7 linked regions of the Homo sapiens genome follow. The protein of the gene in region 2 purifies or fractionates together with the protein of the main gene of each other region. This does not show direct contact. Each region holds a gene or a part of one and is shown on either strand. Other genes may lie near its edges. The genes, in order: ERAP1, FPR1, IPO11, TBC1D9B, FADS1, INTS1 and EXOC2.

What was found.
Region 1: the proteins of FPR1 (region 2) and ERAP1 purify together in Homo sapiens (co-immunoprecipitation; 2 studies listed by BioGRID and IntAct, with this or other methods). This does not show direct contact.
Region 3: the proteins of FPR1 (region 2) and IPO11 purify together in Homo sapiens (co-immunoprecipitation; 2 studies listed by BioGRID and IntAct, with this or other methods). This does not show direct contact.
Region 4: the proteins of FPR1 (region 2) and TBC1D9B purify together in Homo sapiens (co-immunoprecipitation; 2 studies listed by BioGRID and IntAct, with this or other methods). This does not show direct contact.
Region 5: the proteins of FPR1 (region 2) and FADS1 purify together in Homo sapiens (co-immunoprecipitation; 2 studies listed by BioGRID and IntAct, with this or other methods). This does not show direct contact.
Region 6: the proteins of FPR1 (region 2) and INTS1 purify together in Homo sapiens (co-immunoprecipitation; 2 studies listed by BioGRID and IntAct, with this or other methods). This does not show direct contact.
Region 7: the proteins of FPR1 (region 2) and EXOC2 purify together in Homo sapiens (co-immunoprecipitation; 2 studies listed by BioGRID and IntAct, with this or other methods). This does not show direct contact.

The regions. Positions count from the first base shown.
Region 1 is NC_000005.10:96,801,446-96,804,945, forward strand, and holds part of ERAP1 (endoplasmic reticulum aminopeptidase 1 isoform b precursor), read right to left. Parts: intron 2,499-3,500; 5' UTR 2,482-2,498; coding exon 1,958-2,481; intron 1-1,957. UniProt on the Homo sapiens protein: Aminopeptidase that plays a central role in peptide trimming, a step required for the generation of most HLA class I-binding peptides.
Region 2 is NC_000019.10:51,749,079-51,753,054, reverse strand, and holds the start of FPR1 (fMet-Leu-Phe receptor), read left to right. Parts: upstream 1-1,176; 5' UTR 1,177-1,241; intron 1,242-2,801; exon of another isoform or gene 2,802-2,852; intron 2,853-3,976. UniProt on the Homo sapiens protein: High affinity receptor for N-formyl-methionyl peptides (fMLP), which are powerful neutrophil chemotactic factors. Binding of fMLP to the receptor stimulates intracellular calcium mobilization and superoxide anion release.
Region 3 is NC_000005.10:62,625,763-62,629,082, reverse strand, and holds the end of IPO11 (importin-11), read right to left. Parts: intron 1,930-3,320; coding exon 1,765-1,929; 3' UTR 501-1,764; downstream 1-500. UniProt on the Homo sapiens protein: Functions in nuclear protein import as nuclear transport receptor. Serves as receptor for nuclear localization signals (NLS) in cargo substrates.
Region 4 is NC_000005.10:179,873,398-179,876,897, forward strand, and holds part of TBC1D9B (TBC1 domain family member 9B), read right to left. Parts: intron 2,641-3,500; coding exon 2,523-2,640; intron 1,791-2,522; coding exon 1,505-1,790; intron 1-1,504. UniProt on the Homo sapiens protein: May act as a GTPase-activating protein for Rab family protein(s).
Region 5 is NC_000011.10:61,810,504-61,814,003, forward strand, and holds part of FADS1 (acyl-CoA (8-3)-desaturase), read right to left. Parts: intron 3,066-3,500; exon of another isoform or gene 2,851-3,065; coding exon 2,740-2,850; intron 2,166-2,739; coding exon 1,968-2,165; intron 573-1,967; coding exon 471-572; intron 377-470; coding exon 248-376; intron 1-247.
Region 6 is NC_000007.14:1,494,390-1,497,889, forward strand, and holds part of INTS1 (integrator complex subunit 1), read right to left. Parts: intron 2,926-3,500; coding exon 2,749-2,925; intron 1,876-2,748; coding exon 1,767-1,875; intron 1,165-1,766; coding exon 1,044-1,164; intron 505-1,043; coding exon 427-504; intron 1-426. UniProt on the Homo sapiens protein: Component of the integrator complex, a multiprotein complex that terminates RNA polymerase II (Pol II) transcription in the promoter-proximal region of genes.
Region 7 is NC_000006.12:627,140-630,639, reverse strand, and holds part of EXOC2 (exocyst complex component 2), read left to right. Parts: intron 1-678; coding exon 679-805; intron 806-3,500. UniProt on the Homo sapiens protein: Component of the exocyst complex involved in the docking of exocytic vesicles with fusion sites on the plasma membrane.

The sequences.
Region 1 (3,500 bases), on a different chromosome or scaffold from region 2:
AGACCCTGTCTCGGGAAGAAAAAAAAAAAAGTTAAAAAGAAAAAGTAAAAAACAGGGAAAATTCATTTAAGAAGTATGTGAGGAAAACTTAATAGCCTTAACAGATAGTGAGATCCTAAAAATATGTAATCCTAAAAATGGCTCATACCTGTAATCTTGGCACTTTGAGAGGCCTAGGCGGGCGGATCACGAGGACAGGAGTTCGAGACCACCCTGGCCAACATGGTGAAACCCCATCTCTACTAAAAATACAAAAATTAGCTGGGTGTGGTGGTGCGCGTCTGTAATCCCAGCTACTCAGGAGGCTGAGGCAGGAGAATTGCTTGAACCCGGGAGGCGGAGGTTGCGGTGAGCCGAGTTCGCGCCACTGCACTCCAGCCTGGGTGACAGAGCAAGACTCCGTCTCGACAAAAAAAAAAAAAAAAAAAAAAAAAAAATCCCCAACAACCAAGGGAATCTCAGGCAAAGTCAAAGGTCATTAACAGGCAATTCATAAAAGAAGAACCTATAAATCATTAACAAACATATCAAAAGCTGCTCAACTTCCTTAATCAAAGTTACGTAAATTAAAAAGAGATCATTTATTTGGGGACCTTTTTTGCTCTAAAAAGACTGCCAATATACACTATTGGTGAGGGGTAAGAAAAAATGACAAAGTTTATCAAAAATTTATAGGCTCTTTGGCTTACCAATTTTACTTCTAGGCATTTATTCTAAAGAAATAATTTACAAAAATGCTCATCAAAGTGTTGTTGATACTGAAAAATTGGAAACAATTTCATTTCCATTCCCGAGGGATTAAAGATATTAATGTACAACTATGTATTTTAATAAAATCATTAAAAAGATGTCTAGTAATAGTCATTTATATAAAACATCTTCCCAACATATTAAGTTAAAAAATTTCCTTGTAAAAGAGAAAATATAAGAATTCTATTTATATAAAATAATATATATGCATATCCAGAAAGAAGTCTGGCAGAATATTCCAGTGAAATAGAAGTAGTGGTCAGTTCAGGGGGCTATGAGTGAAATAAATTTTACTTTCTTACCTTGATAAAATAATATGGAATTTGAAAAATAAATTAGTATAATCTACCAACAAATAAAATTCCATTTTAAAACTGAGCATAAAATCTCCCCCAAATAAGTCTCCTCCTTAAAAACAGAACCAAAGCAAGGTGAGAAGAGATCTCTAAAAAAGTTTTAACTGAGATAAAAGTATTTCCTCTAATATGTTGCTAGTAGGATTTGCTGAAGTCCTAACCTGTAGTATCTGTGCATGTGACCTTATTTGGACATAGGGTCTTTACAAGTATCATGGAGTGAAGAAGAGGCCACCAGGCTGGGCCCTAATCTGGTATGTCTGGTTTCCTTATAAGAAGATGGAGACTGGGACATAGGAAAATAGAATGGCCATGCGACTAACAGAGGGAGAAACTAGAATGACGCAGGTGCTAGGCATGGAGTACCAGGGATCCACGGCCACCACTAGATGCTAGGAAGATATAAGGAAGGATTCTACCCAGAGTCTGGAGGGAGCACGGGCCTGCTGACACCTTGATTTCAGACTTCTAGCCTCCAGACCTGAGAGAGAATACATTTTGTTGTTTATAGCTACCCAGTCTGTGGTACTTTGTTACAACAGCCCTAGGAAACTAATACACAGTTCAGGAAAATTAAACATGTTTATTATGTCTCAGAAATCGAACCAAATAAACAAATAGATATTTACTCTGATAGAGCTGGGGGAAAGAAAATTGGTTAAAATAGAATTTTAAAATGAGATTTAAAAAGCAAGGGAAAAAGCCATTTTTAACACTATAAAGAAGATGCAAAAGCAAAACTGAAGAAAAAGTTCAACAGCAAAGGGAATTTTAAAAGACAATCAATCTGAAATAATGAATTTAGCGTGGGCAGCACTTGCAGTTTAAAAGAAAAAGAGAAAAAAAAATACCTCAGTTCCCCTTCCTTGGTTCTGTAGGTGCTTTTGTAAAATCCGTGGAAAGTCTCCGAAAGATTGCCAGCATAGTGAATGACAACTGTGTACGGGAGCCCGACAAGGAGGGGCTCGGGAGCCAGCAGTGCAATTTGCTCCTGACGGGGGTGTTCCAGGACCTGCAGGGGTTCTTCCGATAGCCTCTCTCCAGCTCCCTTCCTGAGGGTGGCCCTAGATATCTGCAGGTGGTGACTATGCAGGATGATGGTGCTGGTGGGCTGACTGGCTGTGATTTCTACTTTCGTGGTTCCCCAGAAGGTCAGCGTGGTAAGGTTTGCATGGATCAAGAGATCATAATGAACTGGGATGACGTACTCAGGAAGTCGTATTTTATTCCAAGGAAATGGTGTCCCATCACTACGTTTTGGAGATGCTTCAGTGCTCTGACACCATGAAGGAGTGGACACAGTTAAGAGAGCCAACAGTGAGGAAAGTAGAAATGACATGGTTGCAAGGGACCATTTGAGGGGCAGAAACACCATCTTCTTGCTCTACCTACCTAGCGGCACAAATGTACAAAAGCAAAAATATATGTCATTAAAATGTTATTGACACAGCATAATTTCAGAATGTATCCACCCAGCATTCACAGAAATAGGCATAAACTTCCAAAAGTACTAGGTCTTTTCCTGAAAGTAAAAGGACCTTCCCTATGTTATGGTTTCATATAAGAAAGATGTTTACAGTTAGCAACAATCATTAACACGTACTAGAAAGCATCATTTGATGTTCAAAGTTTAAATTAACTCTACCTGTCAGGGTTCTTGGTTGAAAGCAACCGAACAAGCTCTGGCTGATATAGGCAGAAAAGGAATCATTAGGGGATCCTGAGTGGCTCACTACACGGGTCACAGAGTTGCAGGACATTTGGGAAACCAGGCTCATGAAAGAAGCAAAACCAGAACCATATCAGAGGAACATCTGATCAAGCACCACTCCCCACTGACACTGGACCTTGGAGAAAGTCACCCTAGTACCCTGGAAATCAAATGCTGACACAGTGGCAGCCACCACTAGAACGAGGTCTCCACTTCCCCTGTAAGTATATGTAATGGTAACCTTTAATAACATCAGTGTCTTCCTCAAATTGTCATGCCAAAAGTTAATTACCTATTTATTTAGCCAGGAAGAGCTTAAAGAGCTTAATTTTCCCAGTAGTTTGTGGCAAACGTATCAATCACCTGGATTGATTTTAAAGACATAAAAGCAATGTGAATTTCAGGCCAGGCATGGTGGCTCACGCCTGTAATCCCAGCACTTTGGGAGGATGAGGTGGGCAGATCACAAGGTCAACAGATTGAGACCATCCTGGCCAACATGGCGAAATCCCGTCTCTACTAAAAATACAAAAATTAGCTGGGTGTGGTGGTGCGCACCTGTAGTCCTAATTACTTGGGAGGCTGAGGCAGGAGAATCGCTTGAACCTGGGAGGCAGAGTTGCAGTGAGCTGAGATTGCACCACTGCACTCCAGCCTGGCAACAGAGCAAGACTCTGTCTTTA
Region 2 (3,976 bases):
TGTAGTTCTTGATGATATTTTCCAGATATAACCTAACCTAGTATTACCCTCTTGCAAAATTCTTGTAAAGTAAACCATAAATTTCGTCTTGGTTCTAAGCTAAGCTTGTCCAGCCCATGGCCTAAGATGGCTTTGAATGCAGCCCAACACAAATTCATAAACTTTCTTAAAACATTATCAGATTTTTGGGGGATTTTTTTTTTTTTTTTTTTTTTTAGCTCATCAGGTATCGTTAGTGTTAGTGTATTTTATGTGTGGCCCAAGACAATTCTTCTTCTTCCAGTGTGGCCCAGGGAAGGCAAAAGATTGGACACCCCTTGTTGAAGCCATTGTTAGGTGTAATTGTAAATTATAAATTACTTAGAATTAAAAACAGCCCGGCTCATGCCTGTAATCCCAGCATTTGGGGAGGCTGAGGCAGGAGGATCACTAAACCCAGGGGTCTGAGACATGCCTGGGCAACGTAGCAGGATACTGTCTCTAAAAGAAAAGAAAAAACAGTCTTAATGCAACAATGCCTTGGTAATAATGCTTTTAGAATCAGTGTCGTTATCTCTGATTCTGTAACTGTCTTACCATATTTCTCCATATCACTCTGATACCCTTGGAAGGATGCTTAACATTTCAGAAAAACGGTTATTTCTTTGGGCTAGAAGACTACAAATGAGCTTCCACAAGATCAGAGGATTATGGGGTTAATCTTGGTGGTGTGCATGGGTGTGGACGCGCTGTCCTGCCAACTGTCTCAACTTCCCCCACTCCCTTACCTCTCTCTGTGTTTCTGGTCTCCATCCCTCATGACTTCTTCTCTTCCTTTCATTGCCTCCCTCTGATTCTTCTCACCACAGTGCTTGCTGCTTTCTTTACCTTGACCCTTGGAGGGAGCAGGGGCCCGGACACTTGGATTTCTTGGCCCTTGTTGTTGAGAGCACTGAACCTCTGCATCCCACAGAGACTGAGGCTGAGAAATACAGTCAGGTACATGAGTTTCTAAACAGGCCCAGCCCACTGTCCTAATGCCATTAAAGCAGACAGTATATTGGTGTATTCTTGGGGCCATCAAAAATCAGAAGAAGCTCAGACTTCCTATTTCCTGCTACCCAGCTGGTTTTAGTTCCTTTACCCCTCCTCCTGTTCCTTGGTGTATGTTTTGCTGCAATCATTAGAGCCTGAGTCACTCTCCCCAGGAGACCCAGACCTAGAACTACCCAGAGCAAGACCACAGCTGGTGAACAGTCCAGGTAAGAAACATATTCTGGGGGACTGGGTAGCTTGACATAGACACACTTAATACACTGGTGAACACAATAGACTCTTTGTTTGAAGAAGGATGTGGAGTTGAAGAATAATTTTTTTAAAGAGGTTCTAAACAGGCCGGGCACGGTGACTCATGCTTGTAATCCCAGCACTTTGGGAGGCCAAGGCAGGTGGATAACTTGAGGTCAGGAGTTCGAGACCAGCCTGGCCAACATGTTGAAACCTCACTTCTATTAAAAATACAAAAATTAGCCAGGCGTGGTGGTGGGCGTCTGTAATTCAAGCTACTTGGGAGGCTGAGGCAGGAGAATTGCTTGAATCTGGGAGGTGGAGGTTGCAGTGAGCTCAGATTGCACCACTGTACTCCAGCCTAGGTGACAGAGTGAGACTCCATCTCAAATAAATAAGTAAATAAATAAATAAACAAATAGGCTCTAGACTTTATTGGGGTCCTGATGGGAATGATGGAATATAGAGACACTATGAGGCTGCAGGAGAGAGAAGGGATAAGTGAAGGAGGGAAGTTCTTGAGTAAATGGGGGAATGAGTTTTATGGGACCAGTAGAGGGTAATTCTTGGATGGAAACACTTGTTTTCTGGTTACAGAGATGAGGGCAGAGAACAGTGATGCAGGAGCCAGCAGGAGGAGAATCTGGTGGAGCAAGAGGCAAGGGCATCAGCTTGAGGGCTTGAGTCGGGATGGGAAAGGATGTTTGGTTTGAAGCTTTCAGGAGAAAGCAAAAGAGCCCTAACGACTTTATGATGGGTCATGGGGAAATGAGTGTAATACAGAAGCAGTCACCTTTCGGATCAGTGATGAGTCTCCACGTGAAGACACTGGTTCTGCATGGTGCATAGGACCCAGTAGCGGAATACAGCCCTGCCCTCTCATGAATCTGCAGACATTGGCTGTCATTTCTCATCAAGCTCCTAGTTTCCTCTTCCGTCACACAGGGATGATGATGTATAATCAATGCTGAGTTTGTTGAGATCAGAGGCAAGAAAGTTGAGGATGTGGTACAATGATTATCAAGCATAAAGTCCTTCATCGATGGCAGCCACCAAGGCCTGTGTTCATTGCAAATCACAGGATTTTTCCCTTGAACCATAATTGGACAAAATTGCACAGGTTTTCCTCTCTGGTATGTTCCAGCTCATTATTGCAGAATCCTCATCATTCATTGCAACAATCTTCTGAACTGGTTGCCTTAGAGATTCTTGAGGACAAAGAGTCCTCAGGGTATTTTGGTGGTTGGATGGGTGGTAGGGGAGGGAGACATCTCTGAGTTGTTTCTGAGATTGTAGAGTATCAAAGTTCATTAGAAATGTGAGACACATATGTAATTTCAAAGTGTCAAGTAGGCACTTTAAAAAGGTGAAGAGAAACATGCGAACTTAATTTTAATAAAATATCTAACCTAAACTTAAATAGCCAAATTATTATCATTTTAACATGTAGTCAATATAAAAACTATTAATGAGATGGTCACAATATTTTTTTCATACTAAGTCTTTGAAATCTGATGGGTATTTTACTCCTACAGCCTGTCTCCAGTTGGACTAGCCACAATTCAAGTGCTTGAAAACCACATGTGGTGAGTGACTAGTGCATTAGACAGCTCTTCTGTGCCAGTAGCGTGGCAGGGCAGAGGCAGAAAGAGACTTTTGCTGGAATTCGACAGCCTGGGCTGTTGGGTGACTTTAAGGAATTAACTGAAATGCTCTAAGTCGCACTTTCCTCGTCTGCAAAATGGGTACCATAAAGACAGTGACCCTCATAGTAACAATTTTGAGGAAGGCTGCTGCAAGCATTAGAAGAGAAGACCAGGCCGGGCGCAGTGGCTCACACCTGTAATCCTAGCACTTTGGGAGGCTGAGGCAGGTGGACTGCCTGAGCTCAAGAGTTTGAGACCAGCCTGGGCAACATGGTGAAACCCCATGTCTACTAAAATACAATTAAAAAGAAAAATTAGCCAGGCACGGCGGCGTGCACCTGAAATCCCAGCTACTCAGGAGGCTGAGACAGGAGAATTGCTTGAACCTGGGAGGCGGAGGTTGCAGTGAGCTCAGATCACGCCACTGCACTCCAGCCTGGGTGATAGAGAGAGACTCCATCTCAAAATAAATAAATAAATAAAATAAAATAAATTAAAAAAAAGAGAGAAGGCCAGCTCTCAGCAAGAACCTGACATGCACTTTGCATACCTGATCTAATGAAATGTCATATCCAATACATATTTGGACTATTATTTCTATCACGGTCTTCTACATCCCCAAGAGTGCTGAGCCCATCCAATGGATGGAGAAGCACCTCCCATCCATCTGGCCAAGGTAACCGCAGAGACGAGAGTGGAAACAGAGTCTGTTGTTCTGACTTCTTCTAGCACAGAATCCATTGGATATAATACTTGATTATACGTCGTTTAGTATCACTCACGGATCCATTTGACCTATGTTGGAAAACTAACCAAGTACTATGCCTTGCTTCCCACGATGAGAGAGGAAAGGGAGATTTCATGACCTTAAAGAGAGAGAGCGAGCAGAATTTGGAGTGGAGAAGTTGCATATCTTTTTTTTTTTTTTGAAACGGAGTCTCGCTCTGTCGCCCAGGCTGGAGTGCAATGGCGCAGTCTCTGCTCACTGCAACCTCCGCCTCCCACGTTCAAGTGATTCTCCTGCCTCAGCCTCTGGAGTAGCTGGGACTAAAAGCACCCACCGC
Region 3 (3,320 bases), on a different chromosome or scaffold from region 2:
GAGCTATTTACCAAGCCTATTTAAACTTGTGAGTTTTAAAAATGAAGCAAACTCTTTCCCTGAGATAAGCTTTTTACTTCTTTTGCAAGGTAGCTATTTCAGTAATATTTGGTATGGCACTATAATGAAATCTGTCAGGAATTAGAAGGATGAGTACTTTACTATAACTGAAAAATGAGCATGTTTGAGAATTTCTGATAACACTAATGAGTTAGTGTTTCAAATGAAAATAATTAAGTCAACAAAAAGAAATTCTTCTTGGATCAGTCTTCAGGACTGAGTAATACTGATAAAGAAATATCACTTGAAAGGAGCTTTTTGTCTTTAAATGAAGATAAATTAAAAGGGTAACTAGGATTTGCCACCTGCAATACTGATACCTACTAGCACAGAATCAAAGCTAGAGTATAAAAGAAAATTCTCTATAAGTCACTGGGCAATTTTTAAGAACTCATTTTTTGGGGGGAGCAAGAAAAGTAGTCAGACAAATCAGTCCAAGGTGAGGTATCTTTGGAAAATTTAATTTGGACCATATTTTCTTCCTCTTTCTGAAAACATCAAATATCCCCATACAGTTTGGGTTCCACAGCTTACAAAGGGGCAGTGGGTTTCCCGCAGTTACATACTGTACCCAACTTTCTATAGAAAGATAAAACATTTTCCAACCTTGCTTTTGAGTATTTCCTAAAAAATGCTTTAAAGTTTCCTTACAATAAATGGCAAGTAAAACAAAGTAAGGCTTTTTTTTTCTCCTTTTCCCCTTTTTATGTACTGCATGTTCGAGGAATAAGGAAGGAAGACTAGTTCCATCAGAGTACTAGTAATCCTAGTACCCTGGGGATTACTGCTGGATCCTCCCAGGTATACCCCTATTATTGAGGCCCTGATGCACCCCTGCACTGAGGAACCTGAGAAGGGTAAGTACTAAACAGTCTGTCATAGCCACGTGGGACTGTCACAGCACAGGTGGGACTGGGAGTCGCCCAGTTCTTCTCGGTGCTCACAGGAGTAACAAAGGAACTAGGACTAAACCATAACCAGAGGTCTCCCACGTGGTACTACAGTACCACACGTTCACTTTTGTGGCCCTTACAAATGCACATTTATAGACCCAATGTATTTACTGGAAAAAAAAAGAAAAAAATGCCTTTACTAATTTCTGTATCAAATTATTAGAATGAAAATAAAAGCATTTGTCTGATAAAACACACTTTCTATGTTAGATGAAAATAACTCCCTTGCAAGATAAGCTTGGTAATGTGTATTTGTCACTATTTATATATTTTTGCTTAGTACACACATTTCTTTAATAGCATCATCTGAACAGCTTTGTCATTTTTCAAACCTGTAGTTTCATTAGCTTAAAAAAAGGATAAGGCAGCCAAATTTAATGAATTTTGGTTGCAGAAAAACATCTCAGGTATTAACTCTCATCTTCAAATATTAAGAGCACATAATTAAAAGATAAAGTTTCTTCTCTTAACAGGAAACTAAGCAGCTATTGTCATCAAATGTACTTTTACATGTACTTTTTAGTGAAGGGCCCCCTCATAAATATAAAATTAAATTCTTTTGAGGAATAGGTTTGTGATTTTAGTTATGCAGGATTTACATTTATCCTTTACATTTTGTAGTAAAAAATGTGTGGTCTTTGCTTATTTTCATGAAGTGATTTCTTCATCTCAGCAGGCTCTCACATACAAACGGCAGGCTGGGTTACTCAGCTTGTTTCTGAAAGGGGAGGCAGCCACATGTCATGTGCTCTTAGAATCCTTGCAAAAACTCCTGTAGCTGGGTGACAATCTCCGTATCCACTGTTTCCATGAGGGACTGGAAACCTTGTTCTCCTAGCATCTCCTGCTGTGCCTTGAGCTTCTCGTAGATGAACTGCTGCAGTGACACTGTATGAACAGGGTCCTTCAGGGCCAGCTGTGGGATACAGAGAGGAGCAAGACTGTCAAAAAAGCAAAACAAGTCTCTCCTACCTGCAATTTACAAAAGTTCTTTGTAATCTCTTCTACAGTAACAAAATTGCTTCTGCCTCTCTTCTCACACAGATTCTGTACTAATCTCATGGTGGAAAAATCTGTCAAAGAAAATTTCATTCAATTAGTCTTAACTTCAGTTCCCTAGCGCCCCCTGAACATGTTTTCTGATCAGGCATTTCTCAAGAGCTGGGGGACTCATTCATTTAAAGCATCAAAGCCTAGTAGAAAGCATTCTAAAAGAAACAGAACATGCTGAAGAACATTTAAATACAATTGTCCAGCATTCTCCTTAGGAAGATAGGGTAGGGTAGGCCACTGTGGCAACCCAGTGATGCCCTCAGGATCGAGAAAGGAGACAGTGTTTGCCCTACCCTGGATTGCAATACTATTTAAATTCCTGTATATGCTTCTGGCTGAAAAAAAAAAAAAAGGGACTCCTCGTCTCCCACTGGGATATTTGGAAAACAAAAGGAGTGTAATTTCATGAAAAATAACCCAGAAGTCCACTCCTTAAAGATAACAATGACAAAAGAAAATATTTTGGCTTCTTCTATCCCTGTGGTATGCACATACATACATATACATAAAACACACCTGGACCCAGGCTAAGTGCAATGTGTGATATACCCGATTGAATCCTGCAACCAAGAGTGTTACCGGAAAAACTGGTAAAATCTAAATAAAAGTCTGGAGTTTACTTAATAATAATGCACCGATGTTGGTTTCTTAATTTTGATAAATGTACCATGTATATTTGGAAAATGTAGGGCCAGGCTCGGTGGCTCATGCCTGTAATCCCAGCACTTTAGGAGGCTGAGGCAGGCAGATCACAAGGTCAGGAGTTCGAGACCAGCCTGGCCAATATGGTGAAACCCCGTCTCTACTGAAAATACAAAAATTAGCCTGGCGTGGTGGTGCACGCCTGTAGTCCCAGCTACTTGGGAGGCTGAGGCAGGAGAATCGCCTGAATCTGGGATGCGGAGGTTGCAGTGAGCTGAGATCGTGCCATTGCACTCCAGCCTGGGTGACAGAGCGAGACTCCGTCTCGAAAAAAAAAAGAAAAAGAAGAGGAAAGAAAAATGTAACATACAATGTTAACATTAGGAAAAACTGGGTGAGGGGCACATGGGAACTCTTTGTACTATTTTTGTTACTTTCCTGTAAACCTAAAAGTATTCCAAATTAAGAAGATTACTCTAAAAAATGGACTCAGCAATTAGAAAAGTATACCCCTCTGTGGCCATTTGGTATAAGGACAAACCACTCTACAACTGACATCTCATCTTATGTATTAGCTTATATAAGTGTCTAATAATAGAATTTCTAAGCAGC
Region 4 (3,500 bases), on a different chromosome or scaffold from region 2:
TGTGCCCTGGCAGCGCCCCCAGCAAGTTGGGGAGCCCTCTACAGGGCAGTGCCCCCGACAAGGCCTGAGCACTAACCCTGAGGACGCTGGGCTGTTTTCTTAGTCAGTGGGGGGGTCCCTTGGGCAGGAACGCCTTATAACCCCAGATCCTACCCAGTTGGAAGGATGACGAGCTTCCTCCCTTTGGCGGGGCCCTGGGGATGTGGGACCTTCTCGCCCTGGCCAAGAAGATTCAGGGATCAAAGGTTGAGTCGCAGGAGAAAGTCAGGTGTGGGGAGGCCTGCTGCAGCCCAGGGAATCAGCTTCTCTAGGGACACAGTCCTGGGGATGGAGCCCTACCTCTGTCAGCTGACCTAGCCCCGCCAGAGTTCATGGCCTCTCTGGGTCCCTGGGCTGAGCCTGACACTCAGGTGGGAGGAGGTAGCTGACTCCCCATGCCCATAGCCCTGGTCATATCCCCAGTCAGACCCCTGCTCTGGAGGAGGCCCTATCCGCCTATTGTAGGAAGCGGCAGGAAAACCAGCCACAGACTCCGGCCACAGGCTGAGTATCTTAACATCAGTGTGGACCAAAAGCTACTTAGGCCCACAGTAGGGAGGTGACAACCCTGCTGGATCTAGAGAGTCCCAGGCAGCACCTGGCCTGGCCATGGGCAAGTGGCAGAGTCCCAGGCTGTTCCTGGGGGCTGGGGGCATTCCAGTCCGGACAAATACGCTATGTAGGAGGGTGGGACTGCACAGAGCTCAGGGCAGGGCAGAGTGTAGCCAGGAGGGGCCGGGGCTTGAAGGCCAGGCTGGAGGCTCAGACAGTGCCTTTGTACAGAGGACCCAGGGAAGGGGCAGGGCCAGGTCTGATCAGAGTCATGGGATGCAGGCAGGTCAAAGACTGAGAGGGGAACCCCAGGGAAAGGGCATGGTGGGCCTGGGCTGAGGCAGCAGGCTGAAGGGAAGGGGCTGGATCCCAGACAGAATCTGCAAGAGATGGGATGTGGGGACTAAGGAGGGGGTGGAGGGGCTGGGATGACCCTGGACATTTGGCGTGACTAGTGGGACATCAGCTCATCCAGCTGTTCCAGCGGGCCCAGGGCAGGCCTGCTCCCTCCAGGGCATGGGGGCTGCAATGCAGCTGAGCTTGGAGAGGTATGACCGGGACCACCTGGTGGACATGAAATGCCCAGCTGTGCCACCAACTGGAATTGTGGTCACTGGATCTTGGCTCTGGTTTGCCCTCAGGGGAAGCATCTCCAACCCTACATCTGAGCGGTGGCCCTCCAGCCAGCATGCTCTGCCCGCAGTGCCTGCTTTACTCCTCCTGGCACCTATCACTGAGCGCTGCTTCATCTCCCACTAGAAAGGAGCCGCCTCCTGACCCCAGAGCACCCCCGGGTCCAGCTGCAGCCTGGCACTTGGTGGGCACAGTCACTTCAGGCTGACTGGACAGTGCCCGGGGCTGGTGAGGGGTTCTGCTGTGAGCCCCCAGCAGGAGAAGGAACCCGGCATGTCACCTGCCCAGCATGGTCATGGCCTCGCCCTCGTCGCTGCAGCCCAGCAGCTGCTCCATGTTGGCGTCCAGGACGGCCAGGGCCACCTGCAGGATCACCTTGATGCCCTCATAGAAAAAGCAGTCGACGATGACCACGGCGCTCTCGAAGGGCATGACGCTGAGGAAGAGGGTCAGGAACCAGGACAGCGAGATGCTGGAGATCACCCCCAGGTCCTGCATCTTCTCCGAGAGCTGCGGCAGGAAGTCTCTCGTGAGCTCTTCGAAGATGCCTTGGTCCACCAGGGCTCCTGCGGGCAGGATGAGCGAGGCTGATGGTGAGCCCACCCTGTGGCCTGGGTGGGCCCTCACCTGCAGCGTACGAGCCCTGGCCACTCCAGCCCTGCCAGCTGTGCAGTGAGGGCTGAGGGAGACTTGGAGTGCTGGGAGAAAACAAGGACGAAAAAACCCTTCAAGTCTCTCTACAGCTCCCAAACCACTGGGCGAAATAACTATTTCTTCTACTACACTTGAATTTTATTTTGGGGAAATACTGATTTCTCCGTAAGGCATGAGAGGTAAACAGCACCCTCAATGACTCTGTCCCATCCTGATGATTGTGAATAGACGCAGCTCTGAAGGACCCCAAGAGCGGTAACTCCAAACACCAGACAGCAGGGGAAGGACAGGATAACATGCTTAAATATGAACCTAATTAAACACTCTTGCAAGTCCATTTCCACTTCATAACAGATTTCACTGGATATGAGTTCAGTAAAGTTGAGCATCAGGTTACATGGGGGATATATACTCTCTAGTTTTGATGTTTGAAATTTTCCATAATCAAAAAGTTGACAGGAAGTTAGATGGATAGGAATTTAGGCTCTGAGGGGACTTTTATAAACCACCGAATGTGTAATACTACCCTCTAACTCCTAGGGAACCCACGTGAAGCCTGGAGCTTGGCCTGGGAAGGGCTGCCACCCTCATGGAACCAGCAGGCACCTGGAGACCCAGGCGAGGCAGCACCCGGGGACACTCACCCACCACCCTGGTGTTGTAGTAGTCGGGCAGCATGCGCTCGCACAGGGCCACCAGGAGCCAGAAGGCCTCCTCCTCACTGCCATAGAGCAGGAGCACCGAGGTCACGATGTTCATTGCCTGCCGGGCACAGAGACAGCCGGGGAAGGCTTGCACTGCTGGCCAGCAAATAAAACTGTCTCTCCCCACCCCTCCCAGCCACCCCTCCCTGCAAGGGCCCACATGATCTTCTTTTTGTTGTTGTTATTTTTATTATTTTTCAGGTTCTCGTGGTGAAGATTAATGGCCTCCTCCTACAAGCAAATCTGCCTCTTCAGGAGGGCTGGGCATCCGGTAATGAGAAACTGCCCCTACCCAACTCTGGGAAATGTCAAAAGGCAATTTGTAGGAAACTGATGGAACAGAGAGTCTGCCAACTCCTTCAAACTGGGTCAGAAGGCACTGGGAAACCAGAGAAGGTGAACATCAACACATCACACTTCTGCGGAGTGGTGTTGGGTGTTGGAGGTGGGATTATGACCAAGCTGATGTGGAGGTGAGCCACAAGGCCAGAGCCCCACACCAAGGCCACCCACTCGGTGCACAACTAGGACCACACACAGCCCTAGCTGCTAACAAGACCTTTAAGGCAAACAGAAAGCCATATGACTTGGCCAGGAAAATGCCTAGATTTAAAATCAAAAGCTGCGAGAAATGCTAACCTAAAGTACAATTAGATACCCTCATGCCCATCACTCTAACAACAACAGAATATAGCAAGTGTTGATGAGGATGTGGAGAAATCGGAACCCTTGTGAACTGCTGGTGGGAATATAAAATGGTGCAGCTGCTGGGGAGGAAGTATGGAGTTCCTCAAAAAATTAAAAATAGGCCAGGCCACAGTAGCTCACACTTTGTAATCCTAGCACTTTAGGAGGCTGAGGAGGTCGGATCACTTGAGCCCAGGAGTTCAAGACCAGCCTGGGCCACACAGTGAGACC
Region 5 (3,500 bases), on a different chromosome or scaffold from region 2:
CAAAATGAGGTGCCTTTTATGCAGTAACGGTTTGCTGACTGAACTCTCTAGGGAGGATGGTGACTCCCTCCTGGGCAGCCCCCATCTATTGCCTGTTGCCTTCCAGAACTTCCAAAATGGCAAAAGCCCCAGCCAGCCCAGCCCCAGTGTCTTGCCCACACTGACAACATCGTGGGCATCTTCCCCAACTCCCCTATGTTGGCTGCCTCCTATTCCCCAAGACCTTTCCACTGATACCTCCACGCACCTCCACAGAGAGGATCTTCCCCAAGGCAAAGAAGAAGGGATGCATGTTGATGTCTGGGTCTTTGCGGAAGCAGTTGGGCTTGGCATGGTGCTGGAAGTGCATGTGGTTCCACCAACTGGCGGGGGCCCCCTACAGAAAAGCAGGGACACGAGTATGAAAAGCTTCCCCCAAGGCAGCCCTTCATTGCCTGGAGTTTTAGAGAGCTCCTCCCCATCCCACTGACCTTCAGGTGGCCAATCACAAAATGATGTAGCAGATGGTTCCACTTTGAGGTGCTGAAGACCGACAGGTGCCCAAAGTCATGCTGCAGCCAGCCAGCCTGGGCCTAGGTGAGAAGAGTCAACACTGAGAGCAGCCCACCAGCCCCAGTGTCGCCTTCACTGACCTCGATGCCTCCTTCAGCCTCTCCCACTTCCTTCATCTGCCAAGGCCTGTGATGCACCTCAGGAGTCAGGAAACATGGGTCCTAGTTCTGCCTCTGCCACTGACTCACACGTGAGTTGGGGCAAATCACCATCCCTTCTCTGTTCTTCTGTTTCGCCAGCTCCGAAGCTCATGACTTTTTTTTTTTGAGACAGTTTTGTTCTTGTTGCCCAGGCTGGAGTGCAATGGTGCGGTTTCAGATCACTGCAACCTCCGCCTCCTGGGTTCAAGTAATTCTCCTGCCTCAGCCTCCCAAGTAGCTGGGATTACAGGTGCCCGCCACCAAGCCTGGCTGATTTTTTTGTATTTTTAGTAAGAGTCGAGGTTTCACCATGTTAGCCAGGCTGGTCTCGAACTCCTGACCTCAGGTGATCTGCCCACCTTGGCCTCCCAAACTGCTGGGATAACAGGCGTGAGCCACCATACCTGGCCTGTTTTGAGAGTGTCGCTCTGTTGCCCAGGCTGGAGTGCAATGGTGCCAACTCGGCTCACTGCAACCTTCGCTTCCCAGGTTCAAGCAATTCTCCTGCCTCAGCCTCCCATGTAGCTGGGATTACAGGCACCCACCACCACTCCCAGCTAACTGTTGTATTTTAATAGAGACGGGGTTTCACCATGTTGGCCAGGTGGTCTTGAACTCCTCACCTCAAATGATCTGCCCATCTTGGCCTCCCAAGGTACTGGTATTACAGGCGTGAGCCACTGTGCCTGGCCTTTTTGTATTTTTAGTAGAGGTTTCACCACGTTGGCCAGGCTGGTCTTGAACTGAGATCAAGTGATCCGGCCACCTTGGCCTCCCAAAGTGCTAGGATTACAGACATGAGTCACCACACCTGGCCTGAAGCTCATGACTTATGATGGACTGACATCTAGAATACAGAAAGGACTGAAACATGAGCAGAAGGCTTGCCAAATGGGTCCTGACAGTCAAGAATTAGCGCTCAATCATTATTAACATATTGGGCAATGTCAGTGGTGGGGAGGGAGCCAAGCTTTGCTAAGAAACCAGAAACTTGGCTCCTGGCACAGGTGGGCTGTGGCAGAGAACAAACCGCATAGGAAGAAGAGAACCCTTGGAGAAGCAGCTAAAAAGGCAGTGAGAGAAATGAAGATGTCCATGTGGCTAAAGAGCAGACAGGTCAAGACAGCAGAATGCATGTTCCTGCACTCACTCCTGCATACCTTCAGATCTGCCCTGCTTGGAGGGCAGGCACTCTTGGCCTTCCTCAAACACCCAAGGAGCTTTCCCCAGGGATGCTGAGCATTGCTGTGCACTTGACAAGCCAAAGGCTCTCACCTGAACTGCACTGAGCAGCACCGCACAGAGGAGGAAGGGCAAAAAGGACGTCCCAAAGACCCAAAGGGTGAGCCAGGCTGCACCATCCAGCAGCAAGATGTGCAGCAGGTACAGCAGGAAGAAGACATGGTTGGCCTTCATGAGCCCCATCCGCTCCACTGTGGCCCGCAGCTCCCGGAACTCATCTGTCAGCTCTTTCTGCAGAAGAGGAAGAGGAGCTGTTATTCTTCTCATCTGCACCCCAATGCTACTGGAGACAAGGGCCCTCTCAGGCTCAAGGACCTCCCACTGAGGTAGCTGTGGGAAGTCCACAGTCCTAGGCAAAGATACCACGACAATGAGGATGACAGGAGGAGGTGCCATGGGATAGTGCCTAAGAGTTCAGGGGACTAAGTCCTTGCTCTGCCATTTACTAACTGTGTGATCCTTGGCTGTGTTGCTTAACCTCCCTGAGCCTGTTATCTCATCTGTAAATGTGTAAGAGTTATGAGTTTATGCTTGGTGCATAGTAAGTGCTCATATGATAACAATGATGATAACAATGATGGCAGCCATGGTAGTGGCAGCCTTGGGGGAGCCATAGGTTGCAAAGCCATGCTCCCTTGGGCCTGTGACCTCATGACTATGCAAGAGAAGCAGGGACCTCAAGACTCCCCAGAGCTACTACTGACTGTGATTACTATGACTGTGATCCCATCTAGACTCTCCTTCCACCCCCTCTCTGTCCCCCTCAACAACCAATAGTTGCGACATAGCAAACACAGGGTCTTACATTCTTGGTGGGCTCAAAGCTGGGCTGCTCTGGAGACAGTTCTCCAATCAGGAGAGAGTTCATATACTTCTTCACAAGGCCCTTGTTGATGTGGAAGGCCACAAAGGGATCCTGCAAGTGCCGGGAGAAGATGAAAGGTGAGGGAGCCAGCCCCCTGGACTCCGGCAGTGTTCGCACCAAAGGCCATCCTCCTGCCCGCCAGAAGGCTGTACCCAAGTTGAAGTGAGAGGTGAAGCCAGATGGACTTCCTGGGTCGAGTGCAGACTTGGAGAACTTTTCTGTAGCTAGAGGTTTGTAAAATGCACCAATCCGTGCTCTTTAGCTAGCTAGAGGTAAAATGGACCAATCAGCACCCTGTAAAATGGACCAATCAGTGCTCTATAAAATGGACAAATCAGCAGGACATGGGCAGGGACAAATAAGGGAATAAAAGCTGCTCCCGGCCGGGCGCGGTGGCTCACGCCTGTAATCCCAGCACTTTGGGAGGCCAAGGCGGGTGGATCACGAGGTCAGGAGATCGAGACCATCCTGGCTAACACAGTGAAACCCCGTCTCTACTAAAAATACAAAAAATTAGCCGGGCGAGGTAGCGGGCGCCTGTAGTCCCAGCTACTCGGGAGGCTGAGGCAGGAGAATGGCGTGAACCCCGGGGGAGGGCGGAGCCTGCAGTGAGCCGAGATCGCGCCACTGCACTCCAGCCTGGGCGACAGGGAGACTCCGTCTCAAAAAAAAAAAAAAAAAAAAAGGCTGCTCCCCCTCAC
Region 6 (3,500 bases), on a different chromosome or scaffold from region 2:
GAACCCACGGGGTCACCCATGGGGCTTGAAGGGGGACAGAGCTGTGAGGCCAGCCGGCTGGGGAAGGACAGTGTGCGGCTGTCTGGACAGAAGCAGGGGCAGACGGTGCATCTGAGACTGCGTGAAGGGTGGCGTGCCCGTGGACGCCCTGGAAGCAACTGGAAGGCGGGGGTCCGGGGGAGGCTGCGGCTGGGGCTTGGAGTCACGTGGACGCAGACGGCAGCTGAATCCCTACAGTGGCGCTGGGACGCCAGCATGGGAGTGGGAGAAGGGTGGCACCCAGGATTGTGGAGGAGGAGCAGGATGGTGCTGTGACCATGGGAACAGCCGCCCAACTCCCACTGGCCCTTCCTGCCGCAGCCGGCCCGGCACCCCGCAGCCCCGCCCAGCCCGGCACACAGGAGCCCCAGGCGGCAGCGCACTCACTTGCGGTCACTCTCGGGTGGCCAGTTGTCCCACTTGTAGTAGGTCTCCGGCTGCTCTGTGAACAGCACCTTGTGCAGGCTGGGCAGGCAGAGAAGAGCCCTCAGTCATGATGTGGGTGCTCAGGGACCAGCCCCGTTAGTTCCAGGGAAGGGACCCCGCTCCCACGGGCCCCAGCGCTCAGAGGCCGGGCTGCCTGGTGCCCAAGCTCAGCACCTCCTCACAGCACCACCAAAGAACCCAGGGACCACTCACGGGGCTGCCAGGCTGCACAGCGGCCGAACGGGGCTGCCGGGCTGGACAGCCCTTTACAAAATCGCTGCAGAGAAATGCAGCCCCAGCCTGGCAGCCCCACCCCAACCAAGGCAGAGGCTCCACGGGAGGCTCCAATGCACAGGGTGACCTGCCTGGAGCCTAACGGCTGCTGCTGTCCGCAGAGAGGGGACAGACTCCCGTGTGGGGGCCTGGCTTGTCCCGGCTTAGTGGGGTGTGGGGCAGGGGCTGTGCGGGGCCTGGCTTGTCCTGGCTCAGTGGGGTTTGGGGCAGGGGTTGTGCGGGGCCCCGGCTTGTCCCGGCTCAGTGGGGTGTGGGACAGGGGCTGTACAGGGCCCCAGCCGCACCAGTGCACGTAGTCCTTAGGGGCGAGCTTGCTGATGGAGGGGACCACAGTGTGGAGCCACCAGACGGCATCCCGCTGGATGGCGGCAATCTGGTTCTGGAATGAGCGGAGCACTTCCAGGTCTGAAACAGACACGCAGCTTAGTGGCCCATCCGAGCCATGGGCCATGAGGGGCTAAGGCACCCCTGGGGGTCCAACTCAATGCTGGCACTTGGGAGGGGGTAACTCAGGGCACCCCCAGCTTCTGGACGATTCCCAGCTGGAATAACACCCTGGGAGGCATGGAGTGACCCTGACGCGTGCGTGGGTGACTGGAATCCTCCTGTTCCGAGTGACTCGCTCCGGTCAATGGCTTAGAGGGCTTCTGCGGCCCAGCCTTCCTGTGAACCCATAATCAAACACCCGGACTGCCCCAAACACCACCTCCCCTCCCCACTCCCGCCCGTGGCTGGGGCCACCACGCCTGCAATGCCCCCATGCTGGGCCAGAACTGGAGCACACAAAGGACGCTCATGGGAACAGGGTCTGAGCCTGCAGCTGGGGTGAGGCCCGGATGGACAGGAACGGGGACGGCAGCTTCCAGGCTCCGTGTCCCCGAGTAGCCGTGCTGCGGGACCGCTCCTGCCGGGCGCTCAGGGGACAGTGCAGCCTCGGAGAGCCGCCAGCCACCAGCCTGGACCCGAGACCCCCACCAAGCAGGGCCAGGCCACCCCCACATCCTTACTCCTCTTTTCTCCTTTGTCCCAGGCGATGCCGGCCTCCTTCACCTGCGCTGTGATGCCCAGCATCATGGACACGGCCAGGACGTCGGTGATGTGCACCACGAAGCGCTCCTGCAGGTGCAGCACGGGGTCTGTATCCAGAAGGGACACCCGGGAGCCCCACTCCACACCCACGTGGGCGCGGCACGGGGTCTGTATCCAGAAGGGACACCCGGGAGCCCCACTCCACACCCACGTGGGCGCGGCACGGGGTCTGTATCCAGAAGGGACACCCGGGAGCCCCACTCCACACCCACGTGGGCGCGGCACGGGGTCTGTATCCAGAAGGGACACCCGGGAGCCCCACTCCACAAACACGTGGGTGCAGCACGCACACACTTGCACATGCGCACACATACACACACACAAGCAGGGATCCAGAGAGAGAGCCCAGGACCAGTTGGGAGAGGGGCCTGACAGGAGGGGCACCAGGGCCGGTGGCCCACAAGGTCCTAGTCTGGCCACAGGAGGGAGGTTCAGTCAACAGAGATCCACAAAGCCCCGTCCGCAAAACAGGCCACCCCGGCAGGCTGGCTGCGAGTTGGCTGCAGGGACCTGGCATCTCTGTGATCCACCCTCACTGTGCCTTCCAGCGCCAGCTCCCTCCACAGCCCTCGAAAAGTCTCCAACCCAGCCAGGCAGCCCGCAGCCCCACCCTGCCTCCCTGCTCCCGTGCTCCCCTTGCTGCCGGCAGCAATTCATCCCATCCAGCCTAGGGGTTGCCAGTTCCCCTGTGCTTGGTCAGCCCCTCATAGGTCCTCACACAGGACAGAGCCTATGCTACCCTCTGGGACGCGTCACCGCAAACAGCCTCACTCATCCCCGTACCCACGCTCAGCCAGAGCATCCGAAGGGGTGGAGTGTGCATGGGACCCAGGACGAGGGGGATGGCGGCGCGTGGAACCCGCAGTGAGGGAAAGGCGCCCCAGCGGCGAGGGCTGGCACCTTGAACTCCATCTCCAGGTACTGCGGCTCCTTGCGCTCCTGCATGAGCCCCAGGCAGAAGGCCTGGAAGTTGATCTCGTGCTTGGTCTGCTTGATGATCTCCCGCAGCAGGGCCCGCGAGGCCCGCAGGTAGTCGTCCTTGTTGGTCAGCAGGTCCTGGAACACCATGGCCAGGAACTGGGGCAGAGAGAGGCCGCGTGGGAGGCTGCCCGACAGTGCTGTCCCTGTCACAGGCCCCTTCCCGCAGCACCAACAGGTATGGCGCCCGAGGGCGCTGCAGTGGGTCTCAGACAGTGTGGGGTGCGGGGTGGCGGGCTCCTTGCTCTACTGGCTGCCAGCCCTTGGCGAGCAGGGATCACATCTGATTCCCCTCTCTGAGAACCGGCAGGTGGGGAGTCGGTCCTCGTGAAATGAGGAGGATTAATTAACGGAAGCTGGGGGTGCGGGACACCAGGCGGCAAAGCCATAGAAGCGCGTGTGCCATCTCAGCCCACCCGTGCGCCACGGGCTGAACGGAAACCAAAGGCCACCACCCAAGATCTGAAAGGATCTGAAAGGACGCACTCCTGTCTCAAAATGCCAGGCCGCGAAGACTGAACGCGGAGCTGAGAGCGGCTGTGCCTCCCTCGTGTTTCACACTCCATAGAGCCCACCGGGAGGCCTAATGCGCTGGTGGCGATGGGAGCATCTCCCGAGCCCGCTTCAAAGGAGACACGGAAATCCAAGGGTCCTACAGCCAGGGCTACAGGGAC
Region 7 (3,500 bases), on a different chromosome or scaffold from region 2:
TAAAAGATATTTCTTGAGAGCTTTCAAGAACCATTTAAAAAACATTTGGTTTTCATTTGTAGTGAAATGTCCTTAGGTAGCTTATGGAACCCAGAAGCAGAAACTCACAGTATTAAATATAAAATCATATATGCATAATGGTTTTTCGGCATTTATCATAAACCAGAAGCTTTCCACTGAGCTAACATTTTACTCGAATGTTTTGTGCTTGGATATTTCCCAGACATTTTCCAAGAGTTTACATGATTTCAGAATATTCTCTTGAATAAACAGATATTATAGGTCATATTATTTCATCTTACTGACTTTCTGAATTTTTTGTGCAGATTTAATCAGCTACATTTAACAATGTTTAATTGTAGTGTTTATTATTTGTAAAATATGTTTGTTATTGCAAAACTTTGTCTAAGCAGCTTAATTTGTCTTCTCTGTTGAGTAATGTACAATGAAACCATAAGCTGAGAGGTGTAATTTTTGCCTTTTTATAAATTTTTTTAGTGCTTATAATTAAACTACTAGTCATTTTTTAAAAATTTAGCTGTTATGTCCTCAAATCTCTTAAAGATTATCCAACAGGCATTTTGTATTAGGTCTTTAAGAAGTCAGACAATAGGCCAGACGTAGAAGGTGCCTGGGGTAGGCTTCATCTTATTAAGCATATGCTCCTCATTTCTGTAGGCATTTTGGATCAGTCTGCTGTGTGGGTTGATGAAATGAATTATTATGATATGCGCACTGACAGGAACAAAGGAATTCCGCCCTTGTCCTTACGTCCTGCTAACCCGCTTGGCATTGAGATTGAAAAGTGAGTACCATCTTGCTTTCAGTCTTCTTTATTTTTCAGTTCCTGAAAAGTTTTATATACTTACAGGAAAGGGACTCAAACTCCAGAAACATCCCAGGAAACACAGTTGAAGACACCTCAGTTGTTTGGAGATGGGTGTTATTTATGAAGCCTTGTTAGCTATGCTGCAAGTAAACTTTGCAGTTAGTTAAAACTTGTGGCTAAAACTACTTTTACCTCTTCAGTTTTTTGATTTTGCATTTTGTGAAAAAGAAAAGTCTTTAGTATGTTGTCTAGAGATGGTTAAGTTTAAATAGGTAGATGGCACCTGAAGTCAAAATAGCATACATAATCTGTTTTTTTGATTTTTCTAGAAGTATTTTAGAATAGCCAGGTCTAATCTGGTCTTTAATTTTGTCTATAATGTCTACTCATTCTTGCTTAATCCAGACTTATTTAACTTTAATCATCAGAATTCTGCCAGGTAAATGATATCTTTCAAGATGCCTTATAACTGAATCTAGAGTTTTTTTCTGAATTCCTAGTACAGTGTTTTAGTAACTTTTATAATTAGTGCCTTTCTACTTAAACAATTCACCTAATGTGTTAATCGCAGCTAATTTATCTTCTGGCCTTAGTGCTTCTGCTTATGGAATTGTATACTGAGTATTGCTCTGTAAACTCTTACCAAAAGTGACAAATTAGCACTGTTAATACTTTAACCATGGTTTTAGTTTAGGGTTTTCTAGGAATGGGGAAAATTCTCCAATAATCTCTCTATATATAATCTTCAAGCCTACTCTTGAAGATCATTAGTTTCATTTTCACCTGCTGGGGTTTGCCCCTGGCTGAGGGGAAGTAGCATGTTTGTCTTGGGAAAGTAGCACGTGTTGAAAAAGTCTGGGGCTTAGCAGCTTCACGTGAGCTTTGACTGTTCTAGGTAACATCTTTGAAACATTTTTGCAGTATGGGTCATTCTAGAGCCGTTTAAGGATTCCAGTGCCTCCAAAATTAAGAGTTCAAAGATTGAGAAGGTTTAGAAAATAATGGTAACAGTTGGGTATTTATTTGAGCACAGTTTTAAGCATGAATAGACTTGCAGTTGATAGTAAGCCCCTTATGGGTGCTTCAAGGCTCTGGAAAGCCAGTCTCTTTCCAACCTGCCTGAGAAGTGTGGAGCAGGAGGCCCTCTGAGCTGCTCTTCATAACCAAGAGCCAGTTTTATACATGGGCAAAAGGAATATGGAGATATACAAAATATATTTAGTATGAGACTTGGACAAAATTATCAGTTAGGGTTCATTCAGACGTTTACTATCATAAACGTGATTTCTTCAACTTCTGTTTTGGTGTTTACCCCCACCCCTGTTCTCTCTACCTCCCCACACCTTCTCAGCCTTTGAATCTCTTTATTATTCCTGTTGCTGCTGCCCACAGTGTGGTTTGGCCTGAACTGCGTCTAACAGCAGTGTTCCTAATAAGTGTCAGGTTAATTATTTGATGAGATTGGTAATGGCAGTGAAGAATAATGGCACTGAAAGTACTTAGCTTTCTTAAAATGTTCTTTTCTTCTCTGAGAGGTAGTTTGATTTTGTGTGGGGCAAAACTCTCTCAATTTGAACTTGGGCTGTGCCACTTACTAGCAATATGACATTGAGTAAGTTACTTAGATTCCTTTTGCCTCAGTTTCCTCAGGTGTACAATGCAGTACCTGTTCCTTAGGGTCGATGCGAGGAATCAGGAAGTGAGGAGGTAAACAACTTGGAGCATAGCAAGTGCCTCACAAGTGTTCATCCTTACAGGATTCTTTGCTCTTCTTGGATATATACTATTCATTGTTCTGCCACATAGGAAAAGTTTTTGTTTAATGACTTAAGATTCCAGGGTACTAAAGTGTTTTAAAATTTTAAAATAACATTATGTACATTTATCCAATAAGTACTTCAGTGGGAATAAAATTAACAGATTTTGATGTTACTGTACAGATTGTTACTTAAGTTTCAGAAATATTTGCTCAGCCATGGGATAAAGTAAAATATTAAAGGATAATTTTTGAAAAAGGGAAAATCATGATTCTTATACAAATATAAAATAAATAGATGTCAGAGCTTTTATTTAACTCATAATTAAGGAAAGAACCAATAAGATGTTAAATCCAGCCCAAAGGAAAGTCCAGAGGGGAGACATACGCAATGAGAAATGCCGAAAGATGCAAGACCGTCACTCCGTCTCGGAGGAGCCAGTGGTATCCTCACCTGATGTGCATTTCTGTGGACAGGAATCCCTGGCATCGCCATTAGCCCTCCACAAGCCAGCTCTGTCTTTCTAATAGAGACTCAGAATAGCCAATGATCAGAGAAAGGCGCGGATCCTGTAGCATCAGGGAACACGGGGAGGGCCCTTTAGGCCGTGAACAGACATCCAGTCATCCTTCTGTCCGTCTGAAAGTGTTTGGCAAAAGACTTTCAAAAGAAAGAGAGGCTAGATGTAGAGATTCCAGGAAGCAAGAAAATGAAAGATGAAAGTAAGAATAGGTGTAGAAACCAAGAGAAGATAATGCTTTTGGCCAGAAAAATGCTTTTCCAGGCTTCTTTTTTTTTTTTTTTTTTTTTGGATACTGTCAAGAAAGCTGTGTTTATCTTACTGAATTCTTTGACCTCTGTTAGATAAATCTTGTTTTAGAGAAAGATAAAAGGAAGGAAAGGCAGACTGTAGA